Homo sapiens: one gene and its partners. The protein of the gene in region 3 purifies or fractionates together with the protein of the main gene of each other region. This does not show direct contact. Each region holds a gene or a part of one and is shown on either strand. Other genes may lie near its edges.

Evidence for each region.
Region 1: the proteins of TPCN2 (region 3) and PCDH9 purify together in Homo sapiens (affinity purification with mass spectrometry; 2 studies listed by BioGRID and IntAct, with this or other methods). This does not show direct contact.
Region 2: the proteins of TPCN2 (region 3) and WDR11 purify together in Homo sapiens (affinity purification with mass spectrometry; 2 studies listed by BioGRID and IntAct, with this or other methods). This does not show direct contact.
Region 4: the proteins of TPCN2 (region 3) and NDFIP1 purify together in Homo sapiens (affinity purification with mass spectrometry; 2 studies listed by BioGRID and IntAct, with this or other methods). This does not show direct contact.
Region 5: the proteins of TPCN2 (region 3) and USP32 purify together in Homo sapiens (affinity purification with mass spectrometry; 2 studies listed by BioGRID and IntAct, with this or other methods). This does not show direct contact.
Region 6: the proteins of TPCN2 (region 3) and FGFR1 purify together in Homo sapiens (affinity purification with mass spectrometry; 2 studies listed by BioGRID and IntAct, with this or other methods). This does not show direct contact.
Region 7: the proteins of TPCN2 (region 3) and CSNK1G3 purify together in Homo sapiens (affinity purification with mass spectrometry; 2 studies listed by BioGRID and IntAct, with this or other methods). This does not show direct contact.

The regions. Positions count from the first base shown.
Region 1 is NC_000013.11:66,901,553-66,905,939, forward strand, and holds part of PCDH9 (protocadherin-9 isoform 1 precursor), read right to left. Parts: intron 2,054-4,387; coding exon 1,952-2,053; intron 1-1,951.
Region 2 is NC_000010.11:120,864,440-120,868,826, reverse strand, and holds part of WDR11 (WD repeat-containing protein 11), read right to left. Parts: intron 3,781-4,387; coding exon 3,615-3,780; intron 3,198-3,614; coding exon 3,083-3,197; intron 2,259-3,082; coding exon 2,063-2,258; intron 1,762-2,062; coding exon 1,658-1,761; intron 1-1,657. UniProt on the Homo sapiens protein: Involved in the Hedgehog (Hh) signaling pathway, is essential for normal ciliogenesis.
Region 3 is NC_000011.10:69,065,599-69,069,985, reverse strand, and holds part of TPCN2 (two pore channel protein 2), read right to left. Parts: intron 2,484-4,387; coding exon 2,381-2,483; intron 1-2,380. UniProt on the Homo sapiens protein: Intracellular channel initially characterized as a non-selective Ca(2+)-permeable channel activated by NAADP (nicotinic acid adenine dinucleotide phosphate), it is also a highly-selective Na(+) channel activated directly by PI(3,5)P2 (phosphatidylinositol 3,5-bisphosphate).
Region 4 is NC_000005.10:142,125,196-142,129,582, reverse strand, and holds part of NDFIP1 (NEDD4 family-interacting protein 1), read right to left. Parts: intron 1-4,387. UniProt on the Homo sapiens protein: Activates HECT domain-containing E3 ubiquitin-protein ligases, including NEDD4 and ITCH, and consequently modulates the stability of their targets. As a result, controls many cellular processes.
Region 5 is NC_000017.11:60,209,763-60,214,149, forward strand, and holds part of USP32 (ubiquitin carboxyl-terminal hydrolase 32), read right to left. Parts: intron 3,901-4,387; coding exon 3,819-3,900; intron 2,337-3,818; coding exon 2,262-2,336; intron 1,753-2,261; coding exon 1,614-1,752; intron 1,357-1,613; coding exon 1,251-1,356; intron 1-1,250. UniProt on the Homo sapiens protein: Deubiquitinase that can remove conjugated ubiquitin from target proteins, such as RAB7A and LAMTOR1.
Region 6 is NC_000008.11:38,419,573-38,423,959, reverse strand, and holds part of FGFR1 (fibroblast growth factor receptor 1 isoform 1 precursor), read left to right. Parts: intron 1-2,018; coding exon 2,019-2,163; intron 2,164-4,224; coding exon 4,225-4,387. UniProt on the Homo sapiens protein: Tyrosine-protein kinase that acts as a cell-surface receptor for fibroblast growth factors and plays an essential role in the regulation of embryonic development, cell proliferation, differentiation and migration.
Region 7 is NC_000005.10:123,613,177-123,615,362, reverse strand, and holds part of CSNK1G3 (casein kinase I isoform gamma-3), read right to left. Parts: intron 1,022-2,186; coding exon 967-1,021; 3' UTR 1-966. UniProt on the Homo sapiens protein: Serine/threonine-protein kinase. Casein kinases are operationally defined by their preferential utilization of acidic proteins such as caseins as substrates. It can phosphorylate a large number of proteins. Participates in Wnt signaling.

The DNA of each region.
Region 1 (4,387 bases), on a different chromosome or scaffold from region 3:
CTTTGTTTATAAATAAACTATAGTAGATTTACTTTCACTGTTCTTTCACAAATGGACTAATAATATAAATAAACATCATAACTCTAGATGTCATTTTTTTTCTTCAAATTCCCTAGACCTTTAGTCAAACCCTGTGCAAGCTGTCTTCCTGTGCTTCGGACCTTATAAAATATCTAAGGGAGAAAAAAGTATGATTTATAGAAAATTATTTGAATTATGTCTCATTTATATTCTCTACGAAAAATACGAAAATCTCCAATAAATCATCTCACCACCTTTGGTAATCAAAGGGATTTTCTGAGGAATATGGTTTCTGAGGAGTATGGTTAAGTCAATAAACACAAACATAAAATGTTATAAAAATAAATATAATTCTTAGAAATCTGAAATCCACTTGGATCTTAATGACTTGCACAACATCCTGGGTAGGGTTTTGTACTATTTACCTTAATCTTTACTTATGAGAAAAAATTTTTCTCTGCCATCCAATTAGAACTATTGTGTTATTGTTGGTAATTAATGGGAACAATTGTATTATCTTAGATAGTTGAAACATACACAGTGAAGAGGAAAAAATCAAAGGGTTGGAAACTATGGTTCTTCTCTCAATGTTCAAGAGATTTAGGCTTTGGATAAAAAAAGAAAGAAAAATATAAAAAAGTATATATGCTGAAGTTTAGAAAATCATTTCTAAGTATTTAGACCCACACAAAGAAAAAGAAATAGAATAAAAATATGCAGAGAATTAGGGGATAGAGCTGTTCGAAATATTGCTCAATCCTCTTTCAACTTCCACTAATGTTTTATCTAAAAAGAAGTTGCTTTCTATATTAAGTTTATATTAATCAAAGTAGTTTCTTCAATATACATTACCAGTGGGATTTTTGAAAATAATAGATTCCTTTAGATGGCAAAAGCAATAATTATTACAATTTTTTTTTTACTAATCATGATTAAGAAAAGGTTTGAAGGGAATGGAGGGGACCTACGTTCTGTAAGAAAACAGAATACACACACAGGCACACACACATACGCATACACATGCATTACCTCTCTTTCTACAGTCTATATGTTACAGCTGTAAAAAAATACGTGAAACAGTATGTATGTTTTAATATTAGTTAACTATTAAAACATAATTCTTTAAAAATGGGAATCTTCTTCCATTTCACAACAATGCAAAAATAGTTAACACGACTGAACTCTACACTTAAAAACGGCTCAGATAGTAAGTTGTATGTTATGTGTTTTTTTACCATGACTTAAAAAAAAATACATGAAAGATAGTAGATTTCTATACCCAGCCATACTGGAATAATTGGCACTGGAAAAACCCTTCCAACATAAAAGAATAAGAAAAGAACAACTATGGATCTTCTACCTTTTAATGTGGATGAACTAACTTTTTTAAAAAAGAAAGTAATGTCTTTCAAGTTCAAAAATACAGGGAAATAAAAGATCAAACTGATATAAAGTAGTAAAAAAAAAGGAAAACTTCATTAAAATTCAAATTTAACTAGTCATATTAAGCAGCAATGTCTTTCTCATTTTCCTCAGTATGGGAGATGAATCGAATTAACCTTTCAAAATAGTTGTGCCTTTCTTTTAGTTCAATTAATAAATATGAATCAATCCAGAACATCTAGCTTTAAAAGAAAGTTGCTTATTACTTTCTTTAAAAATAGGTAAAAATCAGTACTTTTCATTCCATGTTACTAACATTATGTTTGAGAGTTGGATCATTACTCAACAGAAAAAAAAAGATATATATCGCTGGATTTTTGTTCTAAAATTATTTACTTAAAATTATTTTCAAAAACATTAGTATAAAAATGTGACCACAGAAGAGATGGGCAAAGACAATAATACTAATTAAGATAGAGTATTTAAAATCATGAGGAAAATGAAAATTTATCAGTACTAACATGTTCTCTATAGATATATGGCATACCTCGTAATGGCTTTCTTCATTCTCCTGAATGTGGAAACCCGTGGAGCTGGGACATTTCTGAGGAGTGACAGGAATATTGTCACTTTTGCTGTGTGAGTTACACTGAAAGAGATTACCAAATAATTGTGACAAACTACTCCACATTTAGAGTGTCCATTGAGAGACATGGCTGTTTGCTATGAGCCTAATAAAGGAATACCACTTGAGCTAACAAGGGTCCACACCCAGAGATACATGCATTAAGATTGAGTCTTTACCATAAAGATTTTTTAATTGTCCCAGGATAAACAAATTGTTAAAACACTTTTACTAAAACTAAAGAAATATAAAATTTAGTAATTTTACTTTTACCTTTTTTAGGCAATATTTATTTATTACATTTATGACTTTGGTAGCTAAAAGTTATACGGTGCTATTTGGGTGAGATATTATTTAAGAGTTTGATATATATTATACACATATTAGCCTGTGACATGGATATTATTAACTACCTCCACTTAAGGAAGAGGAGACTGAAGCATAATTCCTCCCCCAACAAAGCTGTGCTGTTGCCCAGCCTTTTGGGAACCATTCCCCATATCCTTAGCTACCACATGAACTACCTTTATAAGTGATACATTTGAAATAGATAAAACTGAAAAAAACAGAAGTGTAGTGTCTTAAAATACTAGTTGACTTATTTTTCTACTAAATAGAAAGCATTTTTAAAAAACAGGTTATCTAAAATAATTTACCTGGAAATTGACATGAATTATAGAACATAAGATATTACATTATGGCTTGGCCTTTCTCTGTGAACATATTAAAATGACAGTTTTCCATATTCCTCACACAACTTTTTCATGTGAAAATAAGACATTTTCCACTTCCTGTTTTCTTACTTCTTTTCTAAATCTTTTATTAGACTCAAGGCAAGCAATATTTGTAAGTATTGCTGTCTGGCCATTTATTAAACATAACTTTGTAGGTTTTAAGGTTTCTACTTTGATAAAAAGATATTGTTGTGCCCCCAGAAAAGGTTCATCATTGATATATACCTTTTCTTCTTAAATAAAACTATAATATATGCATCGATTTCATTACATTACAAGCAAAGAGACTATTCTTTTCAAAACTAGTATGCCATGTTTCCTATTCATCAATGAAATGCTACCTTTACTATCTCAAAGTAAAATCTGTTAGAAAATTACTGTTAGACATTTTTAAAAGCAAATGTGTTTTAGAATTTTAATATATTGTGTTCACTCTATTTTCATTTCAAGACCATCATTTTATATATTTAAATATATGTTAAAGCACTGTCATTACATTTTGAAGATATAAATTATCTCATTTATTTTTATTTGTTTAAAATAAATAGCTATGTGACAACTAAGAAGGCATGACTTTAAATCCATATATCCATCACTATAAGCCTTTTAGCATGAAAAAATATTTTATATCTGTTCTCTCTCTACAATTTAATTTTAACTCTATTCAAAACTTACCTCCTCTAGCAACTCTTTTCATGCGTCATTCAACAAATGGTGATTGCCATTTTAACCTCTGTTTCTAAGTAACTTTCATGTGTAATTTGTAAAATGTTCCCTTGTAATGTTAATTATTTGAATGTTCCTAAGTTTTTTGTCTGAACAAATTCACTGTTAGCAACAAAGGCTTCACAGCAGCTTTTTTGGCATTCAAGAAAAAAAAAAGCATAGACCTTAAAACAGTTATTTTCATCTGTGATGTCCATAGACATTTTAATTATTCAATTCCTATCCCTAGCCTCTCCACATATCTATTCATGCTGATTAATCTTTTTAAAAGGTTTCATGTATCATATAGTTTTTCTCCTAAGAAACATTTCCTAAATTTCTCTGGCCCAGCAGTGAGTCTCACCCTGACTGTATATTAGAATCACCTGGGGAGATTTTTAAAAATGTCAATGACTGAGTCCCACCTCACATCAGTTAAATTGAAGCTCAGACATAAATATTTTTAAAATATTCAGACAATTCTAATGTGTAGCCAGAGTTTAGAATCCTTGGGTTAAGGTTAAAACTTCCTTGTCTAGCCCTCAGGAAGCTAGAGTAAATTTTGGCCTCACTCCGATTTCAATCTGATATCTTGCTCCATAGAATTTTTTCTTCCTTTTTAAAATTTAACCCATCATATTGTTTTTTTCCCCCATGGATATATCATAAAAGTGTCTGAACCTGAAAAAAAAATCCTATATTTGTATAATACTTTATGCTTTAAATACAAGAACTTATGTATTATCTACAAGGAACCTCTGTAGACTGGTAGAAAACATAATCCATCCTATAACAGATTAGGAAGACACAGGTTCAGGTATATTCAGTGCCATTTGCTGAAGGATTTGCCCTGTAAAAGCAGGACAAGTGTTCACTCTATTTTGGGCAATTTCTACTGTACCATATCTCCCTTAATGGG
Region 2 (4,387 bases), on a different chromosome or scaffold from region 3:
AAAGGATTTCATAACTGGCAGAAATCGTGAAAAAACTGAGGCCTAGAGATGAATGATGGTCTTACCCAAGATGACAGTGGAGCTGTCAGGACTGGAGGCCATTGCTAAGGAGCAGGCTCTGGAGCCAGGATTACCCGGGTCACACTTGGGCTCTTCCATTGTGTGACTGTGTGACTGTGTGGTTTAAAGTTTTAATCTCTCTGGGCCTCAGTTCTCATATGTATCAAATGGAGATAATATTACTTACATTGCAAAGCTGTACCAAGGTAATATGTAGAATATTTAGCACAGCACTTAACACAGTATGAAGTACCCAATAAATGTGATCTAATTAATGTAATTAATAATGTAATGCTTTTTTTTTGTTTTTGAGATCGAGTCTCGCTCTGTTGCCCAGGTTGGAGTGCAGTGGTGCAATCTCGGCTCACTGCAACCTCCACCGCCTCCCAGGTTCAAGCGATTCTCCTGCCTCAGCCCCCTAAGTAGCTGGGACCACAAGCACATGCCACTGCACCTGGCTAATTCTTATATTTTTAGTAGAGACAGGGTTTCACTATGTTGGCCAGGCTGGTCTCGAACTCCTGACCTCAAGTGATCCTCCCGCCTCGGCCTCCAAAAGTGTTGGGATTACAGGCGTGAGTCACTGCGCCTGGCCAATGCTCTTTCTAGTGCATCACTTATTTAGCGTTTCAACAACAACAAAAAAACCCTCCTAAATAATATCGTTTTCAATTATATTATGGTAGAATAAATAATAAAACAGAAAATCCTTTATAAACCATAGCCACAACTGTAAAAAAATTAGATGTCCAAATTGCTTGGCATATTTACAAAGCCTTATAATTTCAAGTAGCATAAAATTTGAAATCACAAACTCTCATTCTTCCTTTAATACATACTGGCCTCATAATTAAATAACTTTGAACACTTTATCTCCAAAAATGATTTTTTGAAAGAATCCCCAACATAAAAATAATTCATGTCAAAAAGTTAAAATAATCTTTTCTAATACTGCTCAGTTACTTTATTCCTTCAGTAAATATTTACTACAAAACAGGCATGCACAAGGTACTGTGCTGAGTGCTGGGAAAGACAAAATAGAATCAAACACTGTACCACCCTTGTGATGCTTACAATTGATGAGATGAAACAGAAGAAAAAAACCCACAATTAAAATATGCTGATAACTGTTAGGAAAAACAAAAGAAGAGCATTTAAATTAGACTTGGGAGATTAAAGAAAACAACATCTGAGTTGAATTTTGAATTAGGAGTAGCAGACAGAAAGGAAGCATGTACTTCATTCCAAGCTGAGGAACCAGCAAACAGCAAGGCCCTGAGTTGGCATGGCATAGCTCAGCATCGGCTCTAGGTCCAAAATCCAGATGCCTAATGTCATTGCTTTCATTTACATCAGTCTCTCACGAATGAACGTTTTCTATTTCTAACAACTATAATGCAAACCCGTGCTACTTCAGGCACTTTTCTACCTAAGTATTTTAAACCCCTCTGATTTATTTAGGAAAGAATGATTCCATGTTCTAGTTTTCTCAAGTATTAACTTTTTTGACTTTAAAATAATTACAAGTGAGTGATTCTATTAATTTTGCCCTTCAGAAAGAATACTTAACATGGAGTTAGAGGGGAAAAAAGCTTACCAATCATGTTATCTAAGGAAAGGTCTGGGAGTTTATTCTGTAGCACTCCTACAGGAATTCCACAGAAAGACACTGGTGAATATAAAGGTGACACACCAGAACTACTGCAAAGACATAATAATTAGAAGGTTTTACATACTTAAAATCTGCATTACGTATTAGGAATTCAAAGTATTAAGTCCAGATTATGGCATTCTATCTATTTTTATATTATTCATTCATCTTACCCATAGGTGAAATAGCTCTAGCAGATTTACATAATTCCCTAATAATCTAAAGCCTTAATTATTACCTTAAAAATATTTTTATAGAAAACCAGCCCTCCTATTTTTATGATTATGGAAATTTTTTATAAAAGGAAACAGGAAACAAAAAACAAAACCATGATCCTGTTGATTCATTTACCTGTTCCGTGAATTTCGATTACAAACTGCAGACTTGAGTTCCCATATCATGACCCTGCCATCACTCACTACGAGGGCGGCTGCATTCTCATTGACAGGACAGCACACCATACTGAAGGGACGGACGGTTTTTGTCACCCTGATTGCATCACACTGGCTTCGTAAATCATAGGTAAGCTCCTGAACTGGATCTGGATCTTCACATAAAATTGTTTTAAATATCAGAAAGCAGCCATATCGATACCACTACTGTTTGTTTCAATTTAAATAAAACCTCAACTAAATTTGGGCATCACTCCTTCATGAATGCAATGTCAAGCATGGCTTCACTTTTTACAATTACTACTAAATTTTTTCCAAATATAATTTACTTAATGACTGTACTAAGTTTAATTTCCAAAATAACAACTATAATCAAGATATCTTTTTTCAATATTTTAAAATAAAGACGATACTTTGAAAAAGGATCAACAGTGATATATAATTAATGAATAAATTTCCATCATAATTTGTAGTAGTCTATAAGCCTGAAAATAACTGTACTTTCCAAAAGATGTGAAAATCACTTTGATCTTTACACAGTATATAATTTCACAAAAACATTATTTCCATTCTCCAAGATAAGACTGACTTGACAACTGAGACTTAATAACCTCTGTCACTTTACAATGGAAGTTCTTACAGCCAACAAGTCAAGGGGGTATAATAATAAAGGCACACAAGGTTGGACTTGTACTGAAAAAAAAAAAAAATTCCAAAAAATAATATCTACTTGGCTCATGGATATGATCAAGAAACACAAAATTTTACTCTCTTTGATGTATACAGGAGGTGCACTGTTTTAACATCAAGAGATTAATCTTGGGCTTATACTTTTTATGCCTCTTATTATAACCATATTTTAAACTTCCTCAAAGCAAGGAGTATCATTAACTATATACCTTGGCTGGTATTTGCCACATCAAGCTTTATAAAATAATTTTGAAGAAAAATATAACATTATTGTGAGACAGAAACTCACCTGGTTCCTCATTTGAAGTGGTAAAAATGTTATTATAAGATCTTCGAACACGTAAAGTTATACAACCATTTTCATGTAGACAAAATAAACCATCACGCTGAAAGCAGGGTATTACCTTTAAATAGATGATATATTTATTTTTTAAAACACAATAGATTAATAAAGTATATACTGTGAAACTCAAACTCATATTTAGATAATATGGGCAAAAGAAAAAAAAATAGACAAATCCCAAACTTTAAAACTAAATGTACATTTAAAATATCCATTTATAATCCTAAAATAATTTGTCTTTACCCATGTGACTTAAATAGTTCAATAAATATCTCAGGATCAGTCACAATTTCTAGGGTAAATCAAACCAATCAAAAGTGCAGACAAAAAAAACAATCTAAAATAGTGTTGCTAGTCTTTTGATAAATTGAAAAGAGAAAGTGGAGAACTGAAGACAAGACTTATGCAAGATTATGGCCTTCTTTTAATATAACATTCTTAATAATTTTGGGGAATATAATTTATGAATTGTAGATACCTGTAAAAATGGAACTCCTGTGCGTTCTATTGCAATCACACCCACCGTCTGATTCACCTCAAGGTCAAGGATTAAAATCTCTCGAGGATAGAGCAACAACATGTGATTCCTTTTTGAAGGCAGGTATGCCAACTGAAGGCAATCATTGAGAGTTATGAATTCAGCACTGAAAAAAGTAAACATTCACTTGGGTCAAAGACTTCATTTATATCAGACCTAATAAAAGATTTAATTTTGTACTTTACACATAAAAATTGACAATAAAAATGTACAACTATTCCCTGAAGTGACCAACATGGGTTGGCATCCAAAACTTAGATCTCTACTATGTACCAAAATCCAAATGCTAATAATATTGTATAGGATGGGTAGAAATGTCAGTGTTTCTAAGTTTTTGAAATATTAAGTAGTAGAATATTAAGTTATTAATATTACACAAGACATGGTAAATGATAATATAATAATAGCTGGCATGCATAAGACAGTTTTATTTTACTTTTACTTTGTCATTAAAAGTACTAGGCAAACTGTTAAAATCAAGACTCAGGATGAAAAACATCAACATTTAGGGTAATTAGGGCCCCTGGACCAGGAGTTACTGGACTATCTGTATGGCTTTGGGCAAGTAACTTCCCCTTGGCTGCCTTCATTCACTTTTAAGCTGTCTTAAATCTTTTTTGAAACAAAGTTTCACTTATATTGCAGCATTTTCTTGTGTGTAAATAAAACAGGTGAAACTATAAGGATTTTAAGAGATTGTTAGGGTCTGAAAA
Region 3 (4,387 bases):
AGGTCTCCTGGGAGGGCTGAAAGGCCTTCCTGTCCAAATTCGATCTCTTGCCTCTGCTCGCACACCCTCCAGGACGGGGAACTCCCTACCTATCAAGGATGTCCCTCTGCACACAGAGCTGAAACCTCCCTGCAGCCCTCCCCACAGTCAGTCCTGCTCCCCCTGCAGTCACTTCCTAGGACTCAGACGGTCCTGCTCCCAGTGCGGTCACTTCCTAGGACTCAGACGGTCCTGCTCCCAGTGCGGTCACTTCCTAGGACTCAGACGGTCCTGCTCCCAGTGCGGTCACTTCCTAGGACTCAGACGGTCCTGCTCCCACTGCGGTCACTTCCTAGGACTCAGACGGTCCTGCTCCCACTGCGGTCACTTCCTAGGACTCAGACGGTCCTGCTCCCAGTGCGGTCACTTCCTAGGACTCAGACGGTCCTGCTCCCAGTGCGGTCACTTCCTAGGACTCAGACGGTCCTGCTCCCACTGCGGTAACTTCCTAGGACTCAGACGGTCCTGCTCCCAGTGCGGTCACTTCCTAGGACTCAGACGGTCCTGCTCCCACTGCGGTCACTTCCTAGGACTCAGACGGTCCTGCTCCCACTGCGGTCACTTCCTAGGACTCAGACGGCCCTGCTCCCACTGCGGTAACTTCCTAGGACTCAGATGGTCCTGCTCCCACTGCGGTCACTTCCTAGGACTCAGACGGTCCTGCTCCCAGTGCGGTCACTTCCTAGGACTCAGACGGTCCTGCTCCCACTGCGGTCACTTCCTAGGACTCAGACGGTCCTGCTCCCCCTGTGTCACTTGCTAGGACTCAGACAGTCCTGCTCCCACTGCGGTCACTTCCTAGGACTCAGACAGTCCTGCTCCCACTGCGGTCACTTCCTAGGACTCAGATAGTCCTGCTCCCCCTGTGGTCACTTCCTAGGACTCAGACAGTCCTGCTCCCACTGCGGTCACTTCCTAGGACTCAGACAGTCCTGCTCCCACTGCGGTCACTTCCTAGGACTCAGACAGTCCTGCTCCCAGTGCGGTAACTTCCTAGGACTCAGACGGTCCTGCTCCCAGTGCGGTCACTTCCTAGGACTCAGACGGTCCTGCTCCCAGTGCGGTCACTTCCTAGGACTCAGACGGTCCTGCTCCCAGTGCGGTCACTTCCTAGGACTCAGACGGTCCTGCTCCCACTGCGGTCACTTCCTAGGACTCAGACGGTCCTGCTCCCCCTGTGGTCACTTCCTAGGACTCAGACGGTCCTGCTCCCACTGCGGTCACTTCCTAGGACTCAGACGGTCCTGCTCCCACTGCGGTCACTTCCTAGGACTCAGACGGTCCTGTTCCCACTGCGGTCACTTCCTAGGACTCAGACGGTCCTGCTCCCACTGCGGTCACTTCCTAGGACTCAGACGGTCCTGCTCCCACTGCGGTCACTTCCTAGGACTCAGACGGTCCTGCTCCCAGTGCGGTCACTTCCTAGGACTCAGACGGTCCTGCTCCCACTGCGGTCACTTCCTAGGACTCAGACGGTCCTGCTCCCACTGCGGTCACTTCCTAGGACTCAGACGGTCCTGCTCCCAGTGCGGTCACTTCCTAGGACTCAGACGGTCCTGCTCCCACTGCGGTCACTTCCTAGGACTCAGACGGTCCTGCTCCCAGTGCGGTCACTTCCTAGGACTCAGACGGCCCTGCTCCCAGTGCGGTCACTTCCTAGGACTCAGACGGTCCTGCTCCCACTGCGGTCACTTCCTAGGACTCAGAGGACACAAGAGACAGCACTCAGGGTCCGCAAGATGAAAGGCACCAGCCAGGGTGGCTGGGCCACAGCCAAGCCCAGGACCGTGGCCTCCATCCTGGCCACACCTGCACCTGAGCAGTGGAGGCCCCATGAGCATCACACAGGGTGAGCGTCGTGGCCAGTAAGACCCTTGGCCCTCACATGCTGCTGCCCAGTGGCTCCCACAGCTGAACCTCGGCAGCAACCGCAGCGTGGATGTGTGGAGCTCCAGCAGGACGGCACCAGGAGACCCCTCTGACCACTGCCATCATCGCCCTATGAAGAACACCAGCCACTTTCAGCTTCTCAGAGGAGTGAGTAGACAAGGAGGAAGAGGAGATGAAAAGAAAAAGGGAGGAGGGAGTGAGAAAGCAAAGGAATGAGACAGAAAAGGAAAGAAGGAAAGAGAAGGGACAAGAGAGAGGGAGAAGAAAACCAAGACAAAAAAAGAAGAGATAGGAAAAGAAGGGGAGGAAGGAAAATGTCACCCTTTCTTCTCCACTTATCGAAAAAAAGGCCTCAGAAACTCCCACTGGGTTCTAAGGCTCAGCAGCCCAAACCGGCCCCCCAGTGCTGGGCTCACCGACCCCCACGGTCCCTCCCTGGCCCTGCACGCACCATCGGGGTTGTTGGCCGTGGTCAGCAGCACCAGGAGGGAAGTCAGAGACTCAGGCAGGTTCTGGAAGTAGGTCAGCCTCTCCCTGTCCTGCCCATCATCCTGCTAAGAGCAGAAGCGGCAGCTCCAGGGCACCACTGGGTCCCCACCCCACAGGCTGAGCTCCAGGCCCCGGACCCAACCGGCTGGAACCATCCACCCGCCGCCCAGCCTGCATCTCCCTGTGGCCTCCCAGCAGGCTGAGCTCATGGCCAGACAGGACCAAACTCAGGATCTCCGGGCGCAAGAGTGGGCACCCAGGGAGACCGCTCACCCGCATGGACACGGTGCCTGGAAGCAGGCCGGCTCAGAACCACAGCAAAAAGCCCTCAGCCAGCCTAGTGACCTCCCTCAGGCCACCTCGCCTGCTCGCAGCCGACTCTGCCATGCACTGTGCAAGCAGTGAGGCTACGGGGCAGAGGCAGGAGGGGCAGGAGGAGCAGAGGGGCCCAGGCTGCCAGGGTGAGATAGGTTGGACCCTTCGTGAAGCCTGCTCTAGAGGCTGTGTGTCAGGGCCCACGGCCGCCCATAGCCACCCACGGGACTCAGTGGCACTGTGCTCGTGGCTGTGGCGAATCACAGCCATTGGTAAGGGGGCATCCACACCGGAGTCCCTATCCTCTCTCCCTCCTGAGAGGGGTCCCAGCCACAAAACACAGCTGGCACATGCAGTGTTTCTGCTCGGAAAGCAACTCTGCTTGAGACTCCGGGCCCGGGGCTCTCACTGGGGCCAGGCTCATGGGCACCCTCTGCCTACCAAGCCTCCAGACCCCCCAGCTGGAAGATGGGTGGTTCCCGCAAACCAGACTGGTTGTATGAACTGTGGGGGCAGGTGGCACAGCGGGACTTGGCACACAAAGCAACCTCCTCTCTTAGGGATCGTTTCAAAGCCACAATCCCAGCTGCTGGCCAAGGGGCAACCCCGCAGGCAGGCCCTGGCATGGAGGCACCTGTGATGGCCACTCTCTGTCGCACAGGCCGCCCTTCCTGCCTCACAGCCGCATCAATAGCACTGAGGCCTCCAAGGCCTCACCTATAAAATGGCACTGTCCCCTCGTCTGTCCAGTCAGGGGCTCCCAAGGACACGTGAGCTAATTGGTGAAGACTCCACAGTCTGCTGGGGGAGGGGGCACAGGGGCCACTGAGAGGAAGTTAGAAGGCAGGGAGCGCTGTCAGGCACAGAGCCACGGGTAGGGACAGGCTCCCCTGCTGGGGAGAGCTAGGCGGGCCCCTCCTGGGCCTCAGCCCAAGCCAGAGTGGAGGAGCAGAGCAAGGCCTTCCGAGGCCTGGAGGGCAGGCTGGCCTCCAGCAGTCACCGGGGACGGCAGGACCACAGCACTGGGTCCAGGCCTCCCGGGCATCCCCCGTCCCACCCTCACCCAGTCAAACCACCACGTTCCCAAATGTAAAGCAACCCACCGAGCGCCCATGGAGCAAGGTTTAGGGCCAGGCTTCGAGCCAGCTGAGGCACACCACCTAACAGACGCTGAGGTCCATAGAGCCGACAGAACTCCCTAAGGCAGGTGGCCCTGCCCCGGCCCATCTCCCACCCCACACTGTGTACCTCCCAGCAGGCCTCACGCTCCTCCTCTACAATTCAGCTCCAGACCCTAGGCATGACTTCCCGTACCTCCTGCCCAGCCCAAGCCACAGCTCTGCAGGGACACAGAGGAGCCCTGGGCTCCTGCCCAACCTGCCACAACCAGCGACGATGGACCCGAGCCAGCCCACAGCCCCGACCTGAGAAACATCTGTAAAATGGGACAGCACCATCACGGCTGCTGGGAGACCACACACCCCAACACCAACCCTGGTTCTTGGAAATCAATCCAGGTTGGAGCTTCACAACGAGCAAAGCCAGCAGAGGACAAGCAGGCTGGCTCTGGACCGCACTCACAAAGGTAGCTAAAGCAAGGCGGCCGCTGCACCCAGAAGCACAGCCTGGCTACCGCCCCAGGCCAGGGTGGCAG
Region 4 (4,387 bases), on a different chromosome or scaffold from region 3:
TGTCAATAAATTTTTCTGACTAATACTACAAAAGCTTCAATTTCAAATGAATTCTTGTGTCAAATTCTCATCAGCATCTACCATCTGGGTACATTTTTTCGAATCCTAGTAATCTAATGTTAAACTTAAGGTACTCCCAAAATAGCTGTATTATAACCTAAGATAATTTTTCCTTTTAAACAAAGACATGTGGCCAAAATAGGTGCAGTAAAGCCAAATGCTCCTGGGACACCGAACTAGGAATTACTTAAATAGAGTTCTTGGGACCATGGTTCACCTAAAATACTGGTTTTAACATTATTTGAAGCTCTTGGCAAGGTATTCTTAGCCTCCTCACACCTAACCACTCTTGTGCTGTGGGAAGGTCACCAAAAGAAGCAGAAGAGTCAGCAGCAAGAACAAAGGCAAATACAGACTTTTCGAATATGTTCCCTTAATATACTGTAGCCAGTAATGAACTTCATTTAAACCTAGCTTGGTTTATACTTAACCCGTTTTATATTTCCTGAGCTTGGTGTCAAAGTAATCACGTTACCCCTGCATAATTTAGGTCTCAGAAAGGAAGCATGACAATTCTAAGAAATACAGAAATCCAAAGAACAAAGAGGTTAAGAGGTCTTCTATGACAATATTTATAAGATAGGCTGCCTGTCTCCTGGAAACTTGGAAATGTTAAATTTGATCATCCCCCACCATAGTAAAAGATGACAGTGCAAATAAATTCCAGCCTTCTTAGAACCACCAATTTTCACTTTGGTAAGGAAAAAAACACTTCCAGGTGAAGAGTTTGCTCCACTAAAATTCACTACTTTAGAATAGTGTACTTTTTTCAATTGAAAAATAAAAACAATTTAAAACACCATTATGACTATGGTATAATCCCAAGACCTCACTGTACAGGCTTCTCACTCTGGCTTATTTCTATAATGCTGGTGATAAGATTAGGCTCCATCAAGAAAGCTGTTTAAAACAAAACACTGCAATGTAGGGGGATCGCGGGGAGAGGCAATCACCTTCAAAAAGAGTAAGCACTTAGTGCCTGCCATCTGCATGCATAATAACTTGCTGAACAATGGAATCCTTAAATATACATCTTTTTACACTTCAGGGGCAACAAGTCAGGCATTCACTAACAAGTGGAGGAACCATGTGCGCTAGAACTAGAGTGTGCTATAAAATTGATTACTTGGTTCCAAAATTTATTTTTAAGATTCCCCTTTTCCACCCCTGGGAACCCTTCTGTGCAGCCTCCCTGCCATGTCCCTGGAGCTCAGGGATCTTCGGGCTCTTTCCTGACACTTTCTGAAAGAATACGCGGCATTGTCACGTTTGGGTTAGAGTTGGAAAGATGCTCAGTCTCTTCCATCAACTGGGTCAGTGGAAGCCCGAGTCCAATTTAACTGTCACAGAATCTGGGTTGTAGGGGATACTCAGAGAGACAGATCTGAAAACTGGGACAGATCTGGGAACTTCTGCTCTCAGTGCACAGAGATGTTGGGCAAGGGTAGGGGGGATATCCTTTGAGTGACTGTGATAGATAATAAATAGCTGTTGGACACTGGATTTTTTTTCCTGTCATATAATTTCTGACCAATTTTACTAAACTTCAAATATGATTTATTTTTTTGAGACAGAATCTCACTCTGTCACCCAGGCTGGAGTGCAGTGGTACCATCTTGGCTCACTGCAACCTCTGCCTCCTGGGTTCAAGTGATTCTTCCGCCTCAGCCTCCCAAGTAGTTGGGATTACAGGCATGCACCACCATACCTGGCTAATTTTTGTATTTTTAGTAGAGATGGGGTTGTGCCATGTTGGCCAGGTTGGTACCAAACTCCTGACCTCAAGTGATCCGCCTGCCTCAGCCTCCCAAAGCGCTGGGATTATAGGCGTGAGCCACCATACCCGGCTGAAATATGATTTAAATGGCATTTTTTCCAAATACAGCTATACAATTACCTACACAGGCCATACAAAGTAGAGTTTAATACAGAACTACCTATAACTACCTATGCCTCCATCGCTAAGAAATAAATAATCCAATCACCTGAGAATTCAGATGACCTTTCACTTTCTCACACCCAGAGTGTGCCATTACTCTTTTCCTGATTACCTTTGCTCCCTTCTATGTGCTGAGCAGACTAGAATGGCTCCCCAGAAGAACCCTAAAACTCTTCCTACTTCAGATATGTCACAATCTGCCATGGTGCCTTTGGCCTTGATGACCTTCAATTTTAAGAAAACATTTATTTACAAATAGGTGCTACTAAGGTTTTGTTCTCAAGTCACACCTGTAATCCCAGCACTTTGGGAGGCTGAGGTGGGCGGATCACTTGAGGTCAGGAGTTTGAGACCAGCCTGGCCAACATGGTAAAATCTCGTCTCTACTAAAAATACAAAAATCAACCAGGTGTGGTGGCATGCACCTGTAGTCCCAACTACTCGGGAGGCTTAGGCACGAGAATCACTTGATCCGGGGAGGTGGAGGTTACAGTAAGCTGAGATCAAGCCACTGCACTTCAGCCTGGGCGACAAAGTGAGATTCTGTCTCAAAAATAAATAAATAAATAAAATAAAATAGAGCGTTTTTTTTTCCCTCCTTATCACCTTCCTCTGTATCTAGGTCCTATTGTTATTAAAAATAAATATGACATTTTTATGAATCTCCAACACAGAAATCATATATAGTTCTAATTCTAATAGAAACAAACTTGAATTTAACACGTTTAAGACATTATACCCTACAGATTTAAACTATTATTTGAGTTCCCAATCAGCAAGAAAGCTTCACCACCGCCCTCCTCACTAAGCAGTTCTAAAATGAGTTGTTTTTAAGCAATAGCAGAGCTGGGGCTAGGATTAGGGCTAAGCAAGGGGCAACATTTATAACTGTAGCAAATGGCAGGACCTAAAGGCACTTAAAAGTCATTCTTGGATTATCTATATTTACTAAGAATGAGAGAACAACAAAAAACCCTACACTAAACAAAACCCATAAATCCTTATATATGAGAAAAGGTATCAACATACACCTCAGAATTCATACAAACAAACAAACAAAGCACGTGAAAAATAATGCTGAAGTATCCAGTAAGTCCATAAAGTTGCAAGTATTTTCACTACTTAATTTTTTCTTGGTTTGGTCATATTTAAACAGCAAGAAAATTCTTGTAAGTTTCAAGTCCCTTCTTTAAGTTATTAAAAATAAATATCAGAAAATTCTGGGTCAATGCTTGAACTCTAGTTTTGAATGTTATTTACTACTTCTATCTTAGAGTTAATTGCTAAAACTTTTACCTTAAAATGCAATTTTTAAAGCTCTCATTACCAACCCACTACTTCTGCATAGTCCCTAAATCCTACCAAAACAAGGCAGTATAATTACAAAAAGTAAACAAGCACATTTCTTTTGGTAAACAGCTGAGTATGCTATTTTACTGCTGTTCAGAAATAATCATTAAGTTTGTGTGGCCTGTACATTTACTTTATATATTGTAAATATAAACTCTGTTATTCTAACATCACCAAATTATTTACATTCAAGAAAAATTCTCTATCTAATTGTTATTAATTAGGGGAAGATATTTTAAATAATTCTGACAAGATAAGAGAGACTAAACAATAAAAAGGCAACCCAATTATAAAATGGGCAAATGATTTGAACAGACATTTCTCCAAAGAAGATATACAAAAGGCCAGTAGACACAAAATGCTCAACATCATTAAGTCAGCAGGAAAACGCAAATCAAAACCAAGACTCAATACCACTTCATGCTTACTAGGATGGCTATAATAAAAAAGACAGACAATAACAAGTGCTGAGTATGTGGAGAAACGGGAACTCTAATACACTGCTGGTGGGAATGTAAAATGGTACAGCTGCTGTGGAAAAGTTTGGCAGTTCCTCAAAATAAGTTAAACATAGGCTGAAAACACAGTGGCTCAGCCTGCAATCCCAGCACTTTGGGAGGCTGAGGCAGGAGGATCACTTGAGGCCAGGAGTCTGAGACCAGCCTGGGCAACACAGCAAGATCCTGTCTCTACTAAAAATTTAAAAATTAGCCAGGCATGGCGGCACACCTGTGATCCAGCTACTCAAGACGCTGAGACAGGAGGATCACTTTAGCCAAGGAGTTCAAGGCTGCAGTGAGTCCAGTCTAGTCTGTTGCTCAGTCTGAGCAACAGAGTGAGATCCTGTCTCAAACAAAAACAGCAACACAGATTTATATTAACATCAAGCAATTCCACTCCAAGGTATATACCCAAGAGAACTGAAAACAAGTTCACACAAAAACTGGTACATGAATCTTCACAGTAGCATTATCCATAATAGCCAACAATGTTCATCAACTTACGAAGGGATCGACAAAATGTGGCTTATCTGTACAA
Region 5 (4,387 bases), on a different chromosome or scaffold from region 3:
GCAATACTGTGTCCTCAGTTCAGTATTATGTAAGCAAACTGTTCTTCAGGCACACAGATGTTATTTAAGACAGAAACATTAAAACAGCGTTTGCTCACATTGAAAGACATCCTGTTCTATAACGTTTTACATTTTTATATGCATATAAAATATGTATATTTTATAGGTACATAGTATATACATAACATATGCATAAAATAATGTGTATATAATAATACATAACATGTATAAAATAATATGTGTATACATTATTTTATATAATATAATGTTGTCTTCAACAATTACATTTTCTGGTCTTGTTGCATCCTAAATTTTATTAACTGCATTATATTATAGAATTATTTTGAGGATATAAATTAATTAGAATAGTGCCTGGCAAGAGGTAAGTAGTCAAATGTGTAGCTGTTATAGTTAATAATTTGTAATATAAAAAGCTTTTGCTTTGTATTTAAATAAAAATAATGAATAATCCTAACTTCACTAAAATCTACTACATCTGATATTAATATAAAACTTATATTCATTAGTTTCATTCATTCATCCTTCTACTTTTTTTTTTTCTTTTTGGAGACAGAGTCTTACTCTGTTGCCCAGGCTGGAGTACAGTGGTGCGATCTTGGCTCATTGCAAACACCACCTCCCAGGTTCAAGCGTTTCTCGTGCCTCAGCCTCCCAAGTAGCTGGGATTACAAGCATGCACCACTATGCCCGGCTAATTTTTTTTAGTAGAGACAGGGTTTCGCCATCTTGTCCAGGCTGGTCTTGAACTCCTGGCCTCAAGTGATCCACCCACCTCGGCCTCCCAAAGTGCTGAGATTACAGGCGTGAGCCCCTGCGCCCAGCCTACTTCTTTGTATTCTACAGATAGAACTATCTTAGTTACGTTGAAAATGGATTGGATTGGATGTAATTAATAAGACTCTGAGGTCCACCTTGCAGTTAGAATACTGCTAATAGTGAAGTATTACCAAAAAAGGTTTACTCTTCATATAAGATGTTTGACAAATTAGTAAAATGAATGACATCCCGAATTTAGAGTGTACCTTTGGTCTTTATCCTACCCACTACATATACAGTAGTAATTTTGCATATATTTAAACAAGCAAAAGAATTTGACCTTTTGTTTATACCAAGTGAAGGATCCAAAAACATTTATTAAGTTAAAAGGCTAAACACAAAAAACAAGCAGAGAAAAATGATTAAACAACTATTAGGAATTAAATACTTTTATATTATTTTAACCTGCTTACCCGAAGCTTTAATGGGGCAACATTCTTCTGAGTTCCACTCCAAAGTTCCTGCACTAAATCACCATAGCATTTAGCCATATGCCCCTTCATACCAATGGGATTTGTCCTAGAAGTTTGAGAGGAAAATTTGTTGCCAAAGATTCTCATAAATCACAATCATGTGGGCGCAAAAATGCCTAGCATCTCACATCAAAATATCTTTTCTTTTTGAAACAAGAGATGTATTCCTTGGCCTATTTCATATTAAATAGGGCAAATAAGATAAAATCTTTCTCCCACAGGGTGAAAAAAGAGGAAATTTAGGTGATATTGGGTTTATATCAAAGTCACAGGTTAAGAGGCCAGTGACTCCAGAAAGATTACCTGTTGAGTTCATAAAGATGTCTCCCTGAGATAAAATACTGTGTCAGTGGCTGTGTGTTACTAACACACTGGATGCTTGAGTTCATGAAGCATGTGTTTCCCAGATTGCTTAGACCTGTGGCTCCCTTTTCTGTGGGAACTGGAACAAACAATATGAGAACCAAAGCTTAGCTGTAGTAATATGCCATGGCACAAACAGTTACTTATATTCAATGAAAAGGTTTTTTATAACTCTCATAATCAGCTAAATGGTGCTAATAATTCTCTAGCAGGTCTCTGAAATGCTAGAGAAGGCTTTTCATGGAGTGTCTGGCAACAGTGATGATCCATGCTCATTTGTAACCCAGAAGCAGCAATTATTCTTTTTAATTGCTATGATTTTTCAAAATAATTCAAACAATTCTTCTTCTAGTATGTCTTTTAAAACATATAAATTATTTAATTGCAGAGTTAGAAAGAAATTTAGAAAATAATTTGATGGTGGGTTTGCCAACATCAAATGCTGCTTCAGGAAAAAAGAAAAAGAAGAAGGCCCTAATTACTTTTGAACTAGAAAACCAAAAGTTGTTAGCACTTTAACAGTTGAGAGAAGAAAAAAAAAGAATACATTTAAAATAATCTCTTTAAAAAATAATACTGGAGACTTACCCTTGTGTCTATCTATTTTACTACTATTTGCTATAAAAGACATCTCCTCAGGCCAACTCATATCTTTGTTGCGAACTGGAAGGACAGATAGGAATGTGTTAATTTCTTATCTATCTAATTTATACCCATTCGATTGCTTTTTTTTTTTAAAGACATCTTATTCCTAAATCAGAAGTTTTAAAATCTAGTTAATTTTAGTACATACATTGCTTAACGACGAGGTTATATTCTGAGAAATGCATCATTAGGTGATTTTGTCTTTGTGTGAACATCACAGAGTGTACCTACACAAACCTAGGCTATGTATGGTATAGGCTGTCGCTCCTTGGCTACAAACCTGTACAGTATGTTACTGCATTGAATACTGTAGGCAAGTGTAACACAATGGTAAGTATTTGTGTATCTAAACATGTTAGAACATAGAAAAGGCACAACTAAAAATACAGTATTATAATCTTATGGGACCACTGCTGTATACAGGTCTTTTGTTGACAAACATCTTTTTGCAGCACATGCCTGTAATTGGCTCTAAAACCATTCCTACTCTTCATATTGAGGACTTTAAAGTCACTTGGTTTGAATAATCTTATCCCTCAATTACCTACTTGAAGTAAAATTATACTCAACCATCTACAGAAGTAATTAAAGTTCAGAAACAATGGAATTTCTTATACTTAAAACATTAGAAATTACAATTCTTTCTTAAATTGTAACAACTGTCAGAGTAATTTATTCCTTTTTTTTTTTTTGAGACAGTCTGGCTTTGTCCCCCCAGGTTGGAGTGCAGTGATGTGATCTTGAGTCACTGCAACCTCCGCCTCCTGGGCTTGACTGATTCTCGTGCCTCAGCTTCCTGAGTAGCTGGGACTACAGGCACGTGCCACCACACCCAGCTAATTTTTGTATTTTTAGCAGAGACAGATTTCACCATGTTGTCCAGGCTGGTCTGGAACTCCTGACCTCAAGTGATCCACCCATCTCAGCCTCCCAAAGTGCTGGGATTACAGGCGTGAGCCACTGCGCCCGGCCTATTCATTTTAATACAAAGGCAGCTAACAATGTTGCCACAAAACTTGATGGGAAAAGATACACTTAAAAAGTTTTTAATGGCATGTGCATGCCAGTGTGTAAATCTATGAATATACAAATAGCTCTGTCAGTGAGTAGCCAATGTTGGTGACTAATGAAAGCCTGTGCTACTAACTATGCAAGAAAGTTGTTCTTTTTACTCAAACTCAAAGCAGCAACTTGAAAATTTTAAGGAACTATAAATGTGTAAACTGAATTCACTTGTTTTTTATCTACCATTCCCATTCTTTGTCAGTCAATGACTAAAAACAGAATATTTTCCCTTTAAAGCAATCTAAATTGTATGGTAGGATTACATAAGAGTTCAAAGGGTTTTCTTTTTCTTTTTTTTCCAAAGGGTTTCTTTATCATAAAAACATAATAATCAAATAATAGTTGTTTTGGAGAAAATTATAAAATGGGTTATTAGTAACTCTTTAAATTCTTCCCCTTGAAAATTTAATATAGATGCATGCTTCCATCTTGTACCTTCAATTACCAGGTGTTGTTCATCCTGGATTTTCAAATATTCCAATTTATGATCCTCATCATCCAGAAGAGTAAGGTAGTTCTGTGTAAGGAGGAGGAAATGTTTTTGTTATTTGGTTAGTAAACTTGAAACAAATACAGAGATAAAAATGAGTAACAATTAAAAAAACAACTTCTTTGTAGTTATATAACATATCACAAATATCTGGCCTACTATAGTTGTTCATAAATATTTATAACTTAGGTGGCAGTATGACAGAAAGACAATGTGTACTTCATAAGCGTTATCTTTCTCTTTTTTAAAATTTCAATAGGTTTTTGGGGAACAGGTGGTGTTTGGTTACATGAATACGTTTTGTTTTTTGTTTTTTTTTTTTTTAAAGATGGAGTCTGGCTCTGTTGCCCAGGCTGGAGTATAGTGGCACTATCTTGGCTCACTGCAACCTCTGCCTCTGGGTTCAAGCAATTCTCCTGCCTCAGCCTTCTGAGTAGCTGGGACTACAGGCTCCCACCGCCATGCCCAGCTAATTTTTGTATTTTTAGTAGAGACAGGGTTTCACCACGTTGGC
Region 6 (4,387 bases), on a different chromosome or scaffold from region 3:
CAGGGAAGGTAATTGCCTAAATCTCCAGTGGATCTCGCAACAGGAAGGAACCAGAAGCTGGGAAAGTTGTTTACCTCTTTGTCCCAGAGTTAGACCTCATCCTCCCCTAGCTTAGCTGTCTCAGAGATATACTGGCCCTCCCTTCTCTTCTCTTTGCTGCTGGTGCTAAAACTGCTCTGTAGGTCATTGGCCACTGTCTCCACTCACAACCCCTGCTCCAGTCCTGGAGGGAGTGGGTTAAACACAAATAGAACATTCCATTTGAAGCAGTGATTCTTTTTTTTTTTTTTTTTTTTTAATCAAATGCTTTGGACTTTTGAAGTCCACTTGTTCTGTACTTGTAAAAGGGAAAGAAGGCCGGGCGCAGTGGCTCACGCCTGTAATCCCAGCACTTTAGATCACTTGAGGTCAGGAGTTTGAGACCAGCCCGGCCAACATGGTGAAACCCCATCTCTACTAAAAATACAAAAATTAGCTGTGCATAGTGGTTGGCACCTGTAGTCCCAGCTACTCAGGAGGCTGAGGCAAGCTAACTGCTTGAACCCAGAAGGCAGAGGTTGCAGTGAGCTGAGATCACGCCACTGCACTCCAGCCTGGGTGACAGAGTGAGTGAGACTCTGCGTTAAAAAAAAAAAAAAAAAAAAAAACTAAAAGGGAAAGGTAATAAATCTCACTTAACATCTCCCTTCGCTCCCTGGGCCTGCCTGAAAGTTACACGGGAGCAACGTGCGTGGCCACATCTCAGCTTTGCCCAACTGACTGGTGTGTCGTTGGTTTGTTCCAGCATTCGGGGATTAATAGCTCGGATGCGGAGGTGCTGACCCTGTTCAATGTGACAGAGGCCCAGAGCGGGGAGTATGTGTGTAAGGTTTCCAATTATATTGGTGAAGCTAACCAGTCTGCGTGGCTCACTGTCACCAGACCTGTGGCAAAAGGTAATGGGGAGATGGATGGGACCCTGTGCTGGGGATTTGATGTAGGCCCCAAGCTGCTGGGGCAGGCGGGGAAGCCAGTACTGGACTGTCCTTGCCACCCTACTGTATTTCTAGTGCCCAGAGCCATGGAAAAATACCCGGCCTGGGAGGCTGGTTTGGTTTGGTATTGTGTTGGTGTCTGTGGGTTCCCTCTCTGCCTTCTGTGTGTTCCTTGGCTTTGTGTGGATCCATGTGAGGACTCACGGGGACACGGTTTTGCTGTGTTACAAATGGTACTTCAGACTGAAGTTGTGAGTGAGTGGTGATTAAGAGAAGGGGCCATAGGCCAGGCACAGTGGCTCACGCCTGTCATCCCAGCACTTTGGGAGGCTGAGGTGGGAGGATCGCTTGAAGCCAGGAGTTTGAGACCAGCCTGGGCAACATAGCAAGACCCCATCTCTACAAATTAAATAAATTAGCCAAGTATGGTGGCGTGTGCCTGTAGTCCCAGCTAGTCTGAAGGCTGAGGCAGGAGGATTGCCTGAGCTTAGGTCGAGGCTGCAGTGAGCTATGTTTATGCCACTGCACCCCAGCCTGGGTTGACAGAATGGTACCCCATCTCTTAAAAAAGAGAGAGAAGGGGTTAGGCATTCCCTTGCATACTCGCATCTGCTGGCTGTGTATGCACATGTGCGTGTGTGTATGCGTGTGCATGTGTGTGTCTGCAGCCCCCGCCATCCCTCCTGTGTTCACCTTCTGGCTATCTTTACCTGAAACCAAACAGCCCCTGCCCGCCGGCCCCATTTCTCCATGCCGCTCACCGCCCGCATGCTCGGATGGGCCAGTGGCTGCCAGCATCTGGTGAAGGGTCGTAACCAGCCATCGTCTTCTCAGGTCTGCCGGAGTTCTTCCCTCAGGGTCTCACCCTCTTCCTCTAACAGGTTTTGCTGCCTGGTGGTTTTCGTTTGTTCCTTGTTGCAAAGAAGATGTCAGGGAGCATTTCTTCCTCTAGTCCCCCTTCTTTCTGTCTCCTTCCCTTGCTCTGCGTCTCTTAGAGGTCTCATGTCCTGTGCTTGTCCATTTTGCTTCCGTTGTCTCTTCTAGACTGCTGGAGTTAATACCACCGACAAAGAGATGGAGGTGCTTCACTTAAGAAATGTCTCCTTTGAGGACGCAGGGGAGTATACGTGCTTGGCGGGTAACTCTATCGGACTCTCCCATCACTCTGCATGGTTGACCGTTCTGGAAGGTACACACTGTAACTTCTCCTCTCGATGTCCTGCCCTCGCCACGGGCACGGGGGGAGCATGCATTTCCAGGCTTGGGGAGACACAGAGGCAGGAGAGCTGGAAGAATGGGCTCCTGCCTGCCTGGTGCCACATCCTGCCCCAGCTTTGAGGGCTGAATCCTCTCAGCTCAGAGAAGAGCTTCCCTAGTTTTGCAGGCGCACGGAGGCCTCCCACCCGTACACCTGCCTCTGCTCTCCCCCTGGCCATTGCAATGCATGCCCGGGATCTGGGTTTACCCTGCAGCCCGACTCCTCCAGGGCAGGCTCCTTCCGTCCTTGGGTCCAGCAGCCTCCCCCCTCCGCTGGGTACTGAGCATCTGAAAAGTCTCAGATAGGGCCCTACACCTCTTCTCCCTTCTCAAGTGCTCAGCCCAGGGGTGGGGCTTGCTGCTTGCAAAGAGCAGCCCACCCTCCTGTACTGCCATCCTATTGCCTTTGAAGAAGGAGGTCAGCCTGGACAGGTGAACTGAGTTGCCTTCAGAAAGGCCTGTCTCAGGCAGCCGCAGCAGGCTTCACGATGTCCATGTATCCTGTTTGCCTGCTGCCGTCTCTCCTCTCCCAAGAGGGGAGGTCTGCGTGTTGAGCCAGGGAGGAAGGAGCCTGCAGCCTGCTCAGGGTGGTGGCTGGTGACTGCGGGGCCAGGGCTTGCTGCTGTCTCTCGGAATGTCCTGCATGTGGGTCTGGCTGTTCCTGCTGGCACTGCCCTCTTCTCTCTCCCCTCCTTTCCCACTCTGCCCTGCTTGCCCGTCAGGGTCTCCGGATGCCCCTGCTGGAGGCAGAGAAGCGTTCTGTTTTTATCATCGTCCCTGTCTTGGTCCTGTCCGTGCTCCCCATGTGCTCCCAATCAGTTGTCTTCGTTCCTCAACATCAGGGAAAGAAAAAACAGCAACACTTCTCCCTGTCATCAGCTCTGCTGTCTCCTTGTCAGGCCTTGGGACGTTCTCTGGGCTCAGTCTAGGGTCGTGCCTCATGCCTCATGCCTCTCTGGGAAGGTTCCCAGGGGCGCCGCCTCCATGGTTGGCTGGTGGGTTTTAAAGGGGAAGGTTGGGAGGAGGCCTGTGGAAGGAGGAGGGCCGTCCACACCCGTGGGGCAAAGCGTGTTCCATGAAACCAGTGCTGTGCGTGCTGGGATGAAAGCCTCCCAGCCTCTCGTGCTGAAGGGAAAGGTGGACCGAACTGGCTTAGCTGCTGTGGCAATGGGGTGGGGGGTGAGTCCTAATCAGAAGGTGGGAGAAGAGAATAACAAAATGGAACTCCGCCCCCTGCCGCCACATTTCCTTAAGTTTTAGGAGTTGGGGCCTATGAGTAGAATTTGAAAGAACTACCAAAAAAGCTTATTTTTGGAAATTAAGTCAGCTTTGCCTGTGGTTTGGCTAGGAATAAATATTTACCTGTGTGCCCCTACAGAGATGACACAGACCCAAAGTGGGACATTGAGCAAGGCACAGGCTGGTTCCCCTCCTGTCCTCTGTCCTCATTCTGTGAGTGCCACCATCACCAGGTACTGTGGCCTGCAGAAATAAACGAGGCACCAACCCTGCCCTCAGGGACCCCGTGTCTTCTTAGGGACAGAGGACTCAGAAACATCTGTGTCCCCGCATGTTAAGTGCATGCACACAGTGCTGAGGCTTTGCAGAGAAGGGCCATGGCTCCCTGAGGAGACCAAGAAAGGCACATAGAAGTGACTTCTCAGCTGGCCCTTGCAGGATCCCTGGGTGCCTGTACCTCTCCAGTCCAGCTGAGCAAGGAGGCTCAGGAATTAATGAAGATGGGGCTTGTGTAGCACGATGGTTCTAGGCCATCCCTTTTCCATGGCTCAAGTCCATTGAAGGCAGCCTCCAAAATCAGGGGGTTGCCTGATCCTCCTAGTGCCACAATCCCAGTCCTAGCTAGAACTTGCCATGGTTCTTCTCCCTAAAAGTTCCCAGGGGACAGGAGACAGGTGTTGCTTTTCTAATGGAGCGGGACCTCGCATGGACGGGGCCCTCCAAGCCTGCTAACACCCTGTTCGCACTGACTCAGCCCTGGAAGAGAGGCCGGCAGTGATGACCTCGCCCCTGTACCTGGAGATCATCATCTATTGCACAGGGGCCTTCCTCATCTCCTGCATGGTGGGGTCGGTCATCGTCTACAAGATGAAGAGTGGTACCAAGAAGAGTGACTTCCACAGCCAGATGGCTGTGCA
Region 7 (2,186 bases), on a different chromosome or scaffold from region 3:
ACATCCAAAGTTTTCTGCTTAAGGGAGAATGTAATCATTCAGCAGTAAGTTTCGGTGAGATTTCTTTAGGCTTCCACCTTATACACTGCAACAAGGTTCACATTTACTACCTCTCCTTAGTGTATTTCTTTATAACTCCAACATACATCACTTTTTAAAGTATTCATTTCTTGCTGTCTAACATACATTATTATTTGGAAGCATAAAGTTACATTGTACAAATATTTTGCATTTTTAAAAATAAGCGCTTTTGCCACTTCTGCAACACAGTACTTCACATAGTGATGCAACAAAAGCGGAGCACATATTTACCACACTCCTTAAGATTCATTTTACCACCACCATCTGCCGAACCCATATTGCTTTTTCCTCAGTACCTCTGGGCAGTGACTGTACCATGATTTCACGGAGAGAATGTTAATATGACTTATGAATAACAGTACCATCAGTAATACTGAAATCAATGCAGATGTCACAAAATATGAACTTCTCAAGGAATAACTTCTTTTAAATATTTGGGCAACTCTGTTTTCTCTGTTGTATTATCCACTGAGAAAAGAAAATTCCTGTTTGATTATGCTCTTACAGAAGTTATAAAAAACCAGATTAGGTATATAACTGGTTGACACTTAAGATACTGTACTGCTTTCTACAACAGAAGAACTTCTGGAAAATGTTCTATGGAACTATATTCATTGATACCACCTCATTGGTCCATTCCATTCACTGATGGGCAAAGCACTCATGTTTTGACAAAACTTTAAAGCTTCCATAAAGGTTAAATTAGAGAAAAAAAAAAAAAGAAAAAGAATGTAAGACAACCACAAAATGAAGTATGAAAGTATGACATTTTTGTTTCTAAGAGTGAGTCCTTGAAAATATACGTGGTCACTACAGAGATGATTTTAATCACAAGACAGCAGATGAACATGTAAGTAACTCCCCAGGATCTGTCTGTGTCCAGAGTCATTTGTGGCGCTGTATGGTTTTCCTTTTCCTTCGTTTGAAAAAACAGCAGCACCTGCAGATGAGGGAAACACTCTTTTTATTTTAAAAGCACTAAAATATCACAAAGTTGACTGTATCACTTTAACTTAAATGATCATAAAAAGCAACAGGCTAGTGCAAGATAAACAGTGATTACACCAATGAAGCATACGTATTAGTGAAAATATGGCAGAGCTATTACTATTATGTTTCATTCACATGCCTTTTAAGAATAGCAAGACATTCTATGCAACATAAAAAGGAGCCATTAAATTCAAAAGGTTTTTCACTAAGAGTAATTAAGAATTTCATTCTATGCATTCTCACCCTTTCTCCCTGATATTTATATGTGACTGTTGAAGCCATTAGGAAGGCAATAATGATCCTAACATTGGGGAGTTTATTCTCACCAATAATCAGTTTAGACTCCAAAAATAAAAAGACACTCCAATATACACTAGTCAACATTTTCCATCATATTAAAAAAGTGAAAGACAGAAAATACATTATATAGAATACCAAGACTGGCAATTTTGAATTCTTTAAGGGTTAAAGAAGGTCAAGCTTATTGAAAGTTTAGTTAAGGTAAAAACTATGCTTAATATTTAAAGTAGCACAATTGAGGTGATTCCATTTTACAAGTCAAAACTGTATATGCAAAAAAATATAATACTGACTTTTATTTCTAGGTGAAAAAAAATCTTGGCTGGGCACAGTGGCTCATGCCTGTAATCCCAGCACTTTGAGAGGCCGAGGCAGGAGGATTGCTTGAGCTCAGGAGTTTAAGAATTCAAGACCAGCCTGGACAATACAGCAAGACCCCATCTCTAAATATCTCTCTCTCTCTAACTACATATACACATACACAAATATCTCTAAATATATATATACACACATACATATATAAATGTACACACATATATTATATTATACATACATACGCACACACACACACACACACACATGCACTGGACATGGTGGCACCCGCCTGTTACCCCATCTCCTTGAGAGGCTGAGGCAGGAGGAATGTTTGATCTATGATTGTGCCACTGAACCCCAGTCTGTGTGACAGGGCAAGACCCTGTCTCTAAAAGAGGAGATGAACACATCAAGGCTGCTGTGGGAAAATGCTGTGGTCTGGTATGAACTGAAAAAATCACTGATCTGCTCCCACCAAAAAAAAAAAAGAAAAAAATTAA